3 linked regions of the Homo sapiens genome follow. The protein of the gene in region 2 purifies or fractionates together with the protein of the main gene of each other region. This does not show direct contact. Each region holds a gene or a part of one and is shown on either strand. Other genes may lie near its edges.

Evidence for each region.
Region 1: the proteins of FRMD1 (region 2) and TRAF7 purify together in Homo sapiens (co-immunoprecipitation; 3 studies listed by BioGRID and IntAct, with this or other methods). This does not show direct contact.
Region 3: the proteins of FRMD1 (region 2) and ITPR3 purify together in Homo sapiens (co-immunoprecipitation; 3 studies listed by BioGRID and IntAct, with this or other methods). This does not show direct contact.

Annotation. Positions count from the first base shown.
Region 1 is NC_000016.10:2,158,574-2,162,387, reverse strand, and holds part of TRAF7 (E3 ubiquitin-protein ligase TRAF7), read right to left. Parts: intron 1-3,814. UniProt on the Homo sapiens protein: E3 ubiquitin and SUMO-protein ligase that plays a role in different biological processes such as innate immunity, inflammation or apoptosis. Potentiates MAP3K3-mediated activation of JUN/AP1 and DDIT3 transcriptional regulators.
Region 2 is NC_000006.12:168,077,669-168,081,482, forward strand, and holds the start of FRMD1 (FERM domain-containing protein 1), read right to left. Parts: upstream 1,545-3,814; 5' UTR 1,427-1,544; coding exon 1,214-1,426; intron 1-1,213.
Region 3 is NC_000006.12:33,619,117-33,622,716, reverse strand, and holds the start of ITPR3 (inositol 1,4,5-trisphosphate-gated calcium channel ITPR3), read right to left. Parts: upstream 1,396-3,600; 5' UTR 1,115-1,395; coding exon 1,026-1,114; intron 929-1,025; exon of another isoform or gene 849-928; intron 1-848.

The sequences.
Region 1 (3,814 bases), on a different chromosome or scaffold from region 2:
CACCCACCACCGTGCCCACAGTCTGGCCTGGGGCCCCCCAGCCCGGCCTACAGGTGTGCAGGGAGGGGCTGGCTCTCAAGCCCTTGGTTCCCTGCACCTGAGCTCCTGGGCTGTCTACCACTCCTGCTGTCTCCTCTCCCATTCTCTAGGCTGCCCAGGCCCACCTGTCCCTTCCAATGCCACCTGGAAGGCCACCCACCCTGGAGCCACTCAGCCTTCAGGACTCGGGCTCAACCCGACATCTCAGCCCCTGCAGTTGGCAGCGCCACGAGCTACCTGGCCCCACCTGATCTTTGCGTCCCATGGTCTCGGGAGATGGGGCCTGGCCAAAGCCTCCCTCGGCCTTCCCCAGGCCCCACTGCGACTCGAGGGGCTTGGCCCTGTGTGACCCAGACTAGGCTCTCGGGGGACTTCTCTTGTGGAAGAGGCAGGGGCTCCTGAGTGTGGGCAGTGCCACACACCTGCAGCCAGGCTCAGAGGAGTCAGCCCTGGGACAGAGGTGTGGTCGTGGTGTGTCTACAAGGCTGCTCTGCCCTGGCACATGTCTATCCCGTCTCCAGCAGCTCCCGGCAGGAAGGTCGGGGAGAGCTGGCCAGGGCTTGCCTTTTGCCATTGTGCTTGGGGTGAGGATGTCCCAGCTGGGGTAAGGCCCTGATAGCCTGAAGTGCAGGGCGCCATGACTCGGCACAGGAGGTTCAGCCCTTTTGGGAGCCCCAGGTTGGCTCCTGCCCTCTGGGAGCAGGGAGGGGATCACCGGGCAGCCACTAGGAGACACTGACCTGCATTTTACAAACCCATCAGCTCCCTGTACTGCAAGCTTCCGGGGCCCCAGGGCCAGCTGCAAGCCCTGCCAGTGATGCCTGCCCGGGGGCCCAGGTGGCCAGGACCCCAGCAGGCACTCCCCTGGGATGGGTCGGGCTGGCCTCAGTGCCTGTTGCTCACAGTCTGGGAGAGCAACTGTCTGGCTTCCCCCTCACTCTGAAGTGAGGTGAACAGAAAGGCACGCAGGGCAATGTGCAAATCAGCCAGAAAGTCCCAGCTGGCCAACAGCAGCCGGGCCACGGGGACAACACCACAGGATCTGTGGGGTGTGCGCAAGACCCCATCGAGCGCCAGCTGAGGGGGACGGAAGGAGGGAGGGGACGGAGGGAGGGAGGGGGCAGAGGGAAGCAGGGGGACGGAGGGAGGGAGGGGGACGGAAGGAGGGAGGGAAGGAGGGGGATACTCTGCACAGGAGGCTGCTTCCCAGTTCACTCGGGTTCAGTGTTCAGCCCCAGCCAGGGACATGGAGGCGGGCGGGACCCTGGGGCTGGAGGCCAGGGAACGTTTGTGTCCCGCCCTAAGGCAGGATCCATCCCCGCACCTCGGAATTGAGCAAGATGCCCGAGGCCTCCCCTCAGCCCAGTCCCCAGGGACTGGGTTTTGCAGTAAGTTTCCCCAGTAGGGAGAGGACCCCTTGGGCCACAACTGGAAAGCACAATAGCTCAGCATCCCCTGATGGCTGGGAGGCTTTTCTGGGGGCATGCCCTGGCCCCCCAGAGGGAGAGTGCCTCTTTCCCCACCCCACAGTCATCGAGGCTGGGGGGTGGCCGGGCAGGAAGTTGTCAACCGGAGTGAGAATTCCCCTTCAATTCTCTGGCCTCTCTGCCCTCCAGTTCCCAGTGCTGGGGAAGTGGGGGTGTGTTCCATAGAATGAGAGACTCTTCCCAAACCGGGAAAAGCCATGGGGGCAGCTAGTGGCTGAGAAAGGGCTTTCCCCATCAGCCCCCCTACCCCTCCCTTCCATGTCCCCACCACGCCTGCCCGAGCACCGCCCGCCCACCCACACCGCCCGCCCATCCACACCGCCTGCCCGAGCACCTCCCGCCCACCCACACCGCCCGCCGGTCCACACCTCCCGCCCGTCCACACCGCCCGCCCATCCACACCGCCTGCCTGTCCACACCACCTGCCCGTCCACACCACCTGCCCGTCCACACTGCCCATGCTGGATGCTCCAGGAGTATTCGATCTTTGAAAGAGAAAAGTCATTGAGGAAGCGCAGCATCCACCCTGGGGAAGGCCAGTGCTGACCTTCAGGGGCGAGGTGCGTGGGTCAGCACCGTGCAGAGGGGAAGGGCAGGATTGGCCCCCCACCGTCCCCTCCAGCTGGGGCCAACGCAGGGCAGCCCCTCCCTGACCTCGCCTGAATCTGGGATTCAGGCCCAGGGTCTTTGTCCACCCCACATTCACGTAGGAGGGATTCCGGGGCCCTGGGGGCACCCACTGTGCAATAAGGAAGTGGAAGTCTTCCTCAGCGCCTCGCTGCCTCCACCCCAGCCCCTCTTCGGCAAATCCCTCAGGAGCCCCTCCCTAGCTCCCACAAGCTGGGCTTAGAGGGCTCTGCTGGGGCATCGCCCTGGGGGCATGTGGGATGCGGACACCCACCCCTTTCCCTGGAGACACACCTGGAGGGGGTCTGGGTCAGGGGTCCCCGCCCACTTGGCAGCAGCCTGGGGGGCCCTGCTGAGTGGGGGAGATGGGGGCTTCCAGATGCAGCTCCCTGCTCGGGCCAGGCCCGGCCTTAAAGCAGCTCCTCCAGCAACCCGGAGCAGGTGGGGTGTGGGGGTCCCCTGAACATGTGTGGGGCGCAAGCCATGGGTGGGTGTGCCTGTGAGGCCTGCAACTGCCCTGGGAGGAGCCTGGGACGGCTCCAGAAGCCTCCGCCCCGCCTGCCACAGGGCTGTGTGTGGCCGGCTGGCTGGACTGCGGCCAGAGCTCCGAGCGTGGCCCCTGGCATCACAGAGCCTGCCCAGGGCACCCACAGACTGCCCGCCCCAGCCCAGCCCCTGCCTCAGCCCCCTGGCCCAAGCCCAGGCCGCTAAATTCTATAGAAACAGGCCTGGTTGCCATAGCAAAGCCACACGCACTTCCGCCGCTGTTCCCTGACGTCCCTTAGAACGTTTTTTCCATCCCAAATAGGCAGGGTGTGACGTCGAAGGCTCCTGGGGTGCCCCGGCCTCTGCCAGCCTTGGTCCTTAGGATCCCCTCAGAACCCCAGCAGGCCCTGGTCTGAGGCCGGCTTGGCCCCGCTTCCCTCCTAGCACGGCGAACCCCCTTGCCTGTCCCTGCCCCCAACACCCACAGCCCCAGCTCTGCAGAGGCCTCTGAACTCCTCCCCCAGCTCTGCTCCTACTGCATCCACTCAGCCTCCAGGCCTGTCTTGCCCTGGCCAAGCCTCTCCAGCGTCCGTATCTCCCTCTGCTCCAGGGAGGGGGTCCCCACAGCTCGGCCAAGGCTTTACCCCAACTTCACAGTAAGGATGCCTTTTGCTGCCCCTCCGACCCCTTGGGGGCTGGCAACATCTCTCAGTCCTTTTTTCCCCTGTATCTCATGGCTGTCTATTGTGTGGGGACCTGGCCCAGTCGAGGGGAAGTCCAGAGGGCTTCCTGGAGGATGAGGCTGCTGGGATCCAGAGTGGGGAGAGTATCCTGGGGCACAGGAAGAGACCCCAGCTTCACAGCTCTGGGCTGGGGAGTGCGTTCCTGGCTCTCACCCAAGTCAAGTGGGCCTCAGACTCTCAGAAACAGGTCGTGAGCTTTGCCCAAGAGCCAAGGGTGGCAGTGTCCCCCCCCCCCCCGCCGAGCCCACGCTTCCCAGTCCCACGCTGTGTTCTCATTTGCTTCCTGTGTGGCTCGGTCTCCCGGGCTCCCTCCTTCCTTCTGCCCTGCAGCAGCAGGGAGCTGACATAAACACTGGCCATACATGGGCCCGAAGAGGCAACAGGAATGTGAGGGCAGAGACCACTGACCCCCTCAGTCACCCAGCGCCCTCA
Region 2 (3,814 bases):
ACCTGTTCAGAACAGGCGGTTCACTATGTTCTAGCTGCATGATCCCTCAGTTAAAATCTTACCGTGAAGTTCCGTGCAAGAAACCTAAAAGTTCCAGCTCTTATGGGGTAGGGGGCCAAAGCCCCAGCATCTTCCCCACAACAGGTCCTCTTATGACCCCTCCCCCAGCCCGAGGCACTGCTGGGGACCCCAGGAAACTACAGGACATCCCCCATTAGCTCAACTCCAGCTTCTCGTTGCTGGGTGGGGACACAGAGTCTTGGGGAAGATTTTGCCACAAACATAGATGTGGGCGTTTACGTAAACACAGAACTCTATCCCGAAGCAGACAAGAGACTCCCAGATTCCCAGGGGACTTGAACCAGGATATTACTAGCAAGTCATACTCCATTCCAGGTAGCAATGATACATTAGCTATGCAGAAAGTCATCGTTCTTCAACAAACCACTCTCATTTTAATTGCCACATTTTCATTATCCACATTAATCATTAAAATGAAAGTACCATCTCAACTCCTGTCGCCATGAACTCAACTAAAACAGGTAGACAAAATGGGGGAAAGGGAAAAGAAAAGGAAATAGAGAAGCATAGAGATGGTGACGTCTGAACACAAGACAGGAGCTGCTCCTTGGAAACCGGCTTCCTGGCGCTCTTCCCTCAGCGCTCCCTCCCGGGAAGGATGTGCTGAACCATAAACTTATTTCTCACAGCAACGTCTATCAGGGATGTTTCCTTCACAGGCCCAGTGAAAGGGCTGGCCCTTGACACCTCACAGACACCTGGCCTAAGCAGAGTGAGGCGGTCCAGGGACTTTCCATACACAGGCTGTGTCCTGAGGCTCTGCTCACCCCATACCCCTGCTCACCCCCACGGCCCTGCTCACCCCCACGGCTCTGCTCACCCTCACAGCCCTGCTCACCCCCACGGCTCTGCTCACCCTCACGGCCCTGCTCACCCCCACAGCCTTGCTCACCCCCACGGCCACCCAGGGCCCTGCTCACCCCCATGGCTCTGCTCACCCCCACAGCCCTGCTCACCCCTATGGCCACCCAGGGCCCTCCTCACCCCCATGGCTCTGTTTACTCCCAAGGCCATCCAGGGCCCTGCTCACCCCCACGGCCACCCAGGGCCCTGCTCACCCCCACGGCCACCCGGAGCCCTGCTCACCCCCACAGCTCTGTTTACCCCCACGGCCACCCAGGGCCCTGCTCACCCCCACGGCCAGCCGCAGTTGCTCCCGGCTGGGCAGCAGCACGAGGACATCCCTGTGTTCCGAGGCCATCGCGTCCATTCCCAGGGTCGGCTCCTGCTGACTGCATGCAGGCCTCTCAGGACTGGGTTCCATACATCGCGCCCCTGAAGGAGGGAACGTGTCAGGGTTTGTCCGGGCGGGGTCTATGCCCCTCCCTCTCGGGGGCACCGCCATGCTGTCGTTACTCGGCCCTCCCCCGCCATGGGTCGCAGGTGGGTGCTCAGCACCTCCCAGATCACAGCTGTGCTTTCCGGGACCCGCCCTTGCCGAGCTTCTCACTGGGAAGGGAATTGAGAGGGAAGCCTGGGCTGGGAATCCAGCATGGCCAAGCCAGGACAAGGGTCAGAGCTGCAAATAGCTGGGTGTGTGGAGGGCGCCAGGAATGCAAATAAACAACCTCAGGCTGGGCACCCGCCATGCAGCACTCCCATGCAGGGTAGCTCAGCAGCCAGCCTCGGTGTGGGCCCCGTGAGAACCAGGCTGGGGGAGACAGGACCCAACTCCTCCACCTGACAACCCCTATCTCCTCAGGGTGCCTGCTCCTTCTTCTATAATGTGGAGAGGGCTATGCAAACCCCATGGGCACAGATGCCAGAGCCAGGGCTGCTGGGGAAGATGGAGCAGCAGCAGGGCAGGACGAGGAGGGCGGGAGGAAGGCAGCCTGGGTGGGCACCCTGCCCCACACACCTCCTGTGGCATCTGTTATCGACCTCAGGAAGCAGCACAGCTGCCGTTCCTGGACAGGTTCTGCCAGGAGGGACCCTGGCTCCCTTTAGGGGCTGGAAACTGAGGACACTTCCTTCCTTGTCCAGGGCCAGCAAATCCCTTCCTGCCTGCAGCAGCTGGAAGGCCAGGAAGGGGGTCCTGGCTTGCGTGGACAGCAGCCGGGTGCATCAGCACGAGGGGTGGGGACATCTCCCGCAGGGCCTGGAACCCCTGAGGCCGCTCAGCAGAGATGAGCAACGCCTTCGAGCTCTTTGGCACAGTGTTAGGTGGGGAAGGGACCCCAGGATCCTGCCTGGCCCTGGGACCACCCAGACCTTTGGGCGCTGCAGGTCAGGAGAGGCAGTTCCCACGGGCCTGGGCTGTGGAATTCTGTCCTCAGCCGTGAGCTCCATCAGTTTCCTGCCATGGAGTCTGGGATGCTCTGGGACCTTCCTCTAGTAAGGGGTCTGGACCTCCGGACGGGCCGTTGTTCATCTTAGGAAATTCGCACTCCAGCCGCCTTAAGGCCTGGCCCGGTGGGTTTAGGAAATTCGCACTCCAGCCGCCCTAAGGCCCGGCCCGGTGGGTTGAGAAGATTTAGGAGGCTTAGGCCTCACCTCCCCCGGACCCTGGACTGACACTGGCTCCCTCCCTCCCTCCCTCCGCTCAGATCCAGACCCTTCCCAGACCCTCGAGGCCACACATGTGTGCCCAAGACAGCAGTGGCGGTCTCTTTTCTCTCCACAGCAAACGTAGAGCTGTTCACTATGGAAGATGTGGGGATCCCTTTAGCTGAGAGCACAAAAAGTTTTAAAAATGGCAAAAAAACCACAAAAAAAAACAGCCCCAGAGAGCAGAGGCTGGATCCTCATGGCCCTGTGCCACTGGCGCCTGAGCAGCTCGTCCCTGTGCCGGGTGCCCTCAGCCGCTGCCTGGAGTCACAGTGCCGGCGTATCAGGAAGGGCGGCAGCAGCTGCACCTCTCAGGATGCCTGGGCGCAGGACAGTGGCAGAGGGCAGGCAGGGGCCAGGGTTGGGGGGTGGCAGAACACCACCGGCACACACAGCACAGAGGGGACAACAGGCACCAGGACCCCTCGGTGGGGAGAGCCGGGGACACGGTGGGGAGTTGTGCTGGGTGCACTAATGATCAAAGCGATGGTTCCCCACGTGTGTGCAGGTGCTGGTGTGTGCGGGCGCTGGTTTGTGCGGGCGCTGGTGTGTGTGGGCGCTGGTGTGTGCGGGTGCTGGTGTGTGTGGGCGCTGGTGTGTGTGGGCGCTGGTGTGTACAGGTGACCGTGGGCCAATGAGCTCCAAACATCATTAGTGAGAAGAAAAGGAAAAGGAATGGAAACTCCACATTTGTATTGATAAACACAATAAATGGATTCTTGTCAAAGCAGGACGTCCCTGGCCCCAGCTCCTTCCTTCCCACCCAGAGTCTCAGGGCCACACCGTTGAGGTTCAGACCTCCAGTGAAGGCCGCCGTCCATCTGAGTGCCAGGGAGAGCTGGGCTTGGGAAGCCCCCGTTGTATTCCTGGGAGAGCGCGGCTTTTTCCTGAAAACGTGCTGAGGCTCCAAGGCAAGGGTGGTCGCCATGAGTACCTCCCGCCAGGGCACTGAGGGGACACCAGAACCTCTGTCCTCAGCTCATCAAGAAGACAACTTTGCACCCTGAGAAGGCAGAGGCGTGACCGGGCCCCAACACTGACCCCACCTCTGAATGTCTTGTCTTCTCGACTGGCCTGTTCGTGATGGAAGAGGCTGGCCTGCCACGTTCGTGATGTCAGGGCCGGGCAGTGGACGGGCAGAGGCCGCGAGGAAGAGGAGACCACCGCCCAGATCTCCTCATGGCTG
Region 3 (3,600 bases), about 130 Mb from region 2:
GTTGTCCTCCAAGGCCATCAGAAAGAAGGCACCACGCGGCTGGCTGGTCCCACTCAGTGGATCAGCAGAGGAGGGTGGGTGTACCCTAGAGGACAGCCATGTGTGGTTGGGAGGATGAGACAATTTAACCCAGGCCCCCAGACTGTAAACGGGACAAAGATAGCCGACCCTGCCCTGGGGTCTGGCTGGAGAAACCACCTACGCTCCCATCCAGCGAATCACATCCAGCTGCTCCTCTGAAGATAAACCCATCCTCTCTACCTAATTTCTCTCCTGCCCTCTCCCTGCTACAGGCCTGGCCCTCTCCAGGGACGTGAACTGATTCCCTGTTCATCCAGCCCAGACCCTGGGAGGTGGCGGCCAGAATTAATTAATGTTTGTGAAGTGCTGGAGAGAAGCTAGAACCAAGGACCCAAGGGCGCCAGATGACCGGCGCAGGAAATTGAATGGGAGAGGCGGGGAGAAGGGGCAGCTGGCCAGGACCTTGAAGCCTGGAAGGGGAGGGCTGAGAAGACACTCCTACTGAAGCTGGGAAGAACAGGGAGAGAGCTGTGAGGAGAAGGTGCGACCCCTCAAAGGCACCACGGGATCGGTAATAGAGGATTACGGGCTCCAAGCTGAGCCTGCCCACTCCCGACAGCTCCGCCCTACCCTCAGAGCCGGGCACGTCTCGGCCCGGCTGCCCTTCCCCAACTCAGCCTCCAGCCACCCACCTGCCCGCCCCCGGGACCACCTGCAAAGGAAGCCTCCGTCCCTCCGCCCCCTCCAAAGGCGTGCGCGGGAGGGTAGAGGCTGCGCCGCCGAGGGAGGCTCCTCCTGCCAACTCCAGTAGGGAGCCCGAGTCCTACCTGAGCAAACACTTCACTTCCTTTCTGTAAAAGAAGGAGGCGAGCCGTTCCCGCTCCTTGAGACTAGGGGGACGTCCAGGCCTCTATCGGGGGGCGGCGGCTGGACGCACGCAGCTGGCACCAGGGCCCACGGCGCCCCCTCTTTACCCGCGCCCCTCTCGAGCTCGGCTCACTCACCCCAAAGTGCTGATGAAGCCATTGACGGAGCCCTCGGCGTACAGGGAGACGATGTCCCCGATGTGAAGAAAGCTGGACATTTCACTCATGGCTGCGGCCCTCCGGGGCCCAGGGCGTGGGGGGCGCCTAGGGGCGCGTGGCCAAGCTCAGTGCGGAGGACTGAGGCGTCCGGGGAGCGGGGAGGGGTACGCTCCCACCTCGGATCCCGACGCTCGGTGCGGCCGGGGCGGGCTGGCGGCCACGGGAGCCAGGAGGCGGCTCGGCGGGGCCCGGGGTCCGGGTGAGGAGGTGCCCACGTCTTGGCGCGCCCGCCGCCCGCCCGCCCCGCCCGGCCCGCGCGTACCTGCAGCGTAGAAGGAGCAGGAAGTCTGGGGCCACCACACACATGCAAATCCCGCCCGGGAGGCGGGGAGGCCACACCCCGCCCCCCCTCCCCCCGCAGCTCGCCCGCCGGCACCCATGTGCACCCGCCTGCCTTCCCGCGCCCCGCGCTCCTCGCGCGTCCGGGGCCCGGCCTCCCGGACGCCGAATGCGCCGCCAGCCCTCCTGATCTCCAGAGGCGTCCTGCAAGGCACCGGGTCTAGGGGGCTCTCGGAGCTGCCATCCCTGGGAGGCCCAGGCGTAGTGGGGAGCTCTCCGCCCTCGGGGTTCCCGGACTATCTGCACCCGGGCCCTCGGCTGGCTAAGAGCCAGTGCAGGCGCCCGCGGAAGGGGGAGTCCAGCTCTCCGGCGGGCGTCACCCCGGAGCCGCTCGCGGAGGGCGCGCCCTGGAGCGCCCTGGCCGCGGCCGCCCTGCGGCCACCGCGCGGTCTCCGCGCCCAGCTGAGAGCAGGCTGGCGCCCAGAGGCGCGCTCATCCCTTTGCAGAGCAAATTCGGGATTCATTTTTCTCAACGTGAAAAGCCTTTTCATTGCACAATAGAAAGTGCTCAGGCTTGGAGGGGAAATGAAGCAATGGGGTGGGTTTTGTTTTTTTTCTCTCCGCATTCCTGTGTACAAAGAGATCCAACTTCCGAATCAGTTCAGCCGCTCCCTCTCCAGGAGTTGGCTCCAAAACTCTTGGCTCCTTCCGTCTTTCCTTTCAAAAAAAAAAAAAAAGCAGGGATGAAAATTACCTTCGCTAGTTGACAGAGCACCCAAGCGCTAACGATGCCAAGTCTGGGTGCCGGCCCCCTGGGAGTGACCCGCTGCGGCAGCGCCGCCAGGCTCTGGCTCCCGAAGTCCTGCCCTCAAATTCGCGTCCCGGGCTCGCTTACTTTCTGTTCTGTTCCCCGGTGCTTGGGTGTTTGCTTCCTAGTCCTTTATTTGAACGCCTAAGATAGGGTGCCCATTGCCACCGCCATCCGATCACTTTTGCTCCCTTCGGACCCCCCAACCCCACTTCCTGAGTTGTGGGGGGGCGTTTGTCCCTGGGAGAGAGGGAGGAGGGGACTCGGTGACTGAAGCAGGAAGAAGAGAGGCTAGGGGAGGGGTGGAGACAGCTAAAAGCAAAGAGACAGCTGCTGACCCTGGGAGGAGAAGAGCCCCAGGCAGTGGTTTTTTTGTTGTTGTTGTTGTTTTGTTTGTTTGTTTGTTTGTTTGTTTTACGAAGACCCCCAGGAACGATGTGGGAGGGAAGGACACCTCCAGGATCGCTAAGTACCGTGTTTTACAGTTTTGTTTTGTTTTTTCACCATGGCAAACAGTAACAAGTTTTACAGCAGACCAGTCCACACCTTCGTCTATATATAAGCAAAACAATAGATCACCAAACAATACTTACTTTTATGACCTTTGATGCATGCTGATATTTTCTATTCTATTTCAGTTGTGTTCTTGTTGTTGCTTTAATGCTGATTGTAACCCACTGAACTGGTTTTTTTTAATGTCCCAAATGGGTTGCAAACTGCAGTTTAAAAAACCTCATCCAGTCCACTGTGCCAAAAAGAGATGACCAAAGCCCAGAGAAGGAACACCACCCATCAAGGGCACACGGCAGGTTCCTGGCAACTGGAGGCAGAAGCCAACCAAGCCTCTGATTTTTAGCCGGGTATTCTCCTATTACCCCACACCAACTGAGCCACAGCGATGGGTCACTGGAACCTCACTGAGAAGGGGCAGCCCCTGGGACAGTTTCACTTGCTCCCAGGAGTCAGGCCTCCTGTATCATCCCCAAAAGTTAGAAGGGAAAAATATGCCTTCATTCCATAAGCATTTATTGAAGGCCTGTGATGTCAGGCCTCTGCTGGGCACCAGGCTCTGATCAAGCTGTCAGCCTGGGCCCAATTGCCTTTTTCCCTTCCCCAGACCGTGAGGATGAAGAGGGACAAGTTGAAAACTTGCCTCCAGTGGCCACACTCAGAACTTGTGCCACAGCCACACCCAGGAATCCACCTCCTTCCTCCCCTGACATCCATATAGATGGTTCCATAACTCAGCCGAGGTGTAGCAGCCAGGAATGGAGGTCACTCCACTTTGGGTCTCTCTGGACTAAAGCACATGGCCTTGTTTCTCCCCACCCCTCCCCATCCTAGGAATACTTAGAGCCTCTGTCTCTCCACCAACCAGGAGGTCTCAGAGGTGAGGGCTCTGGGCCC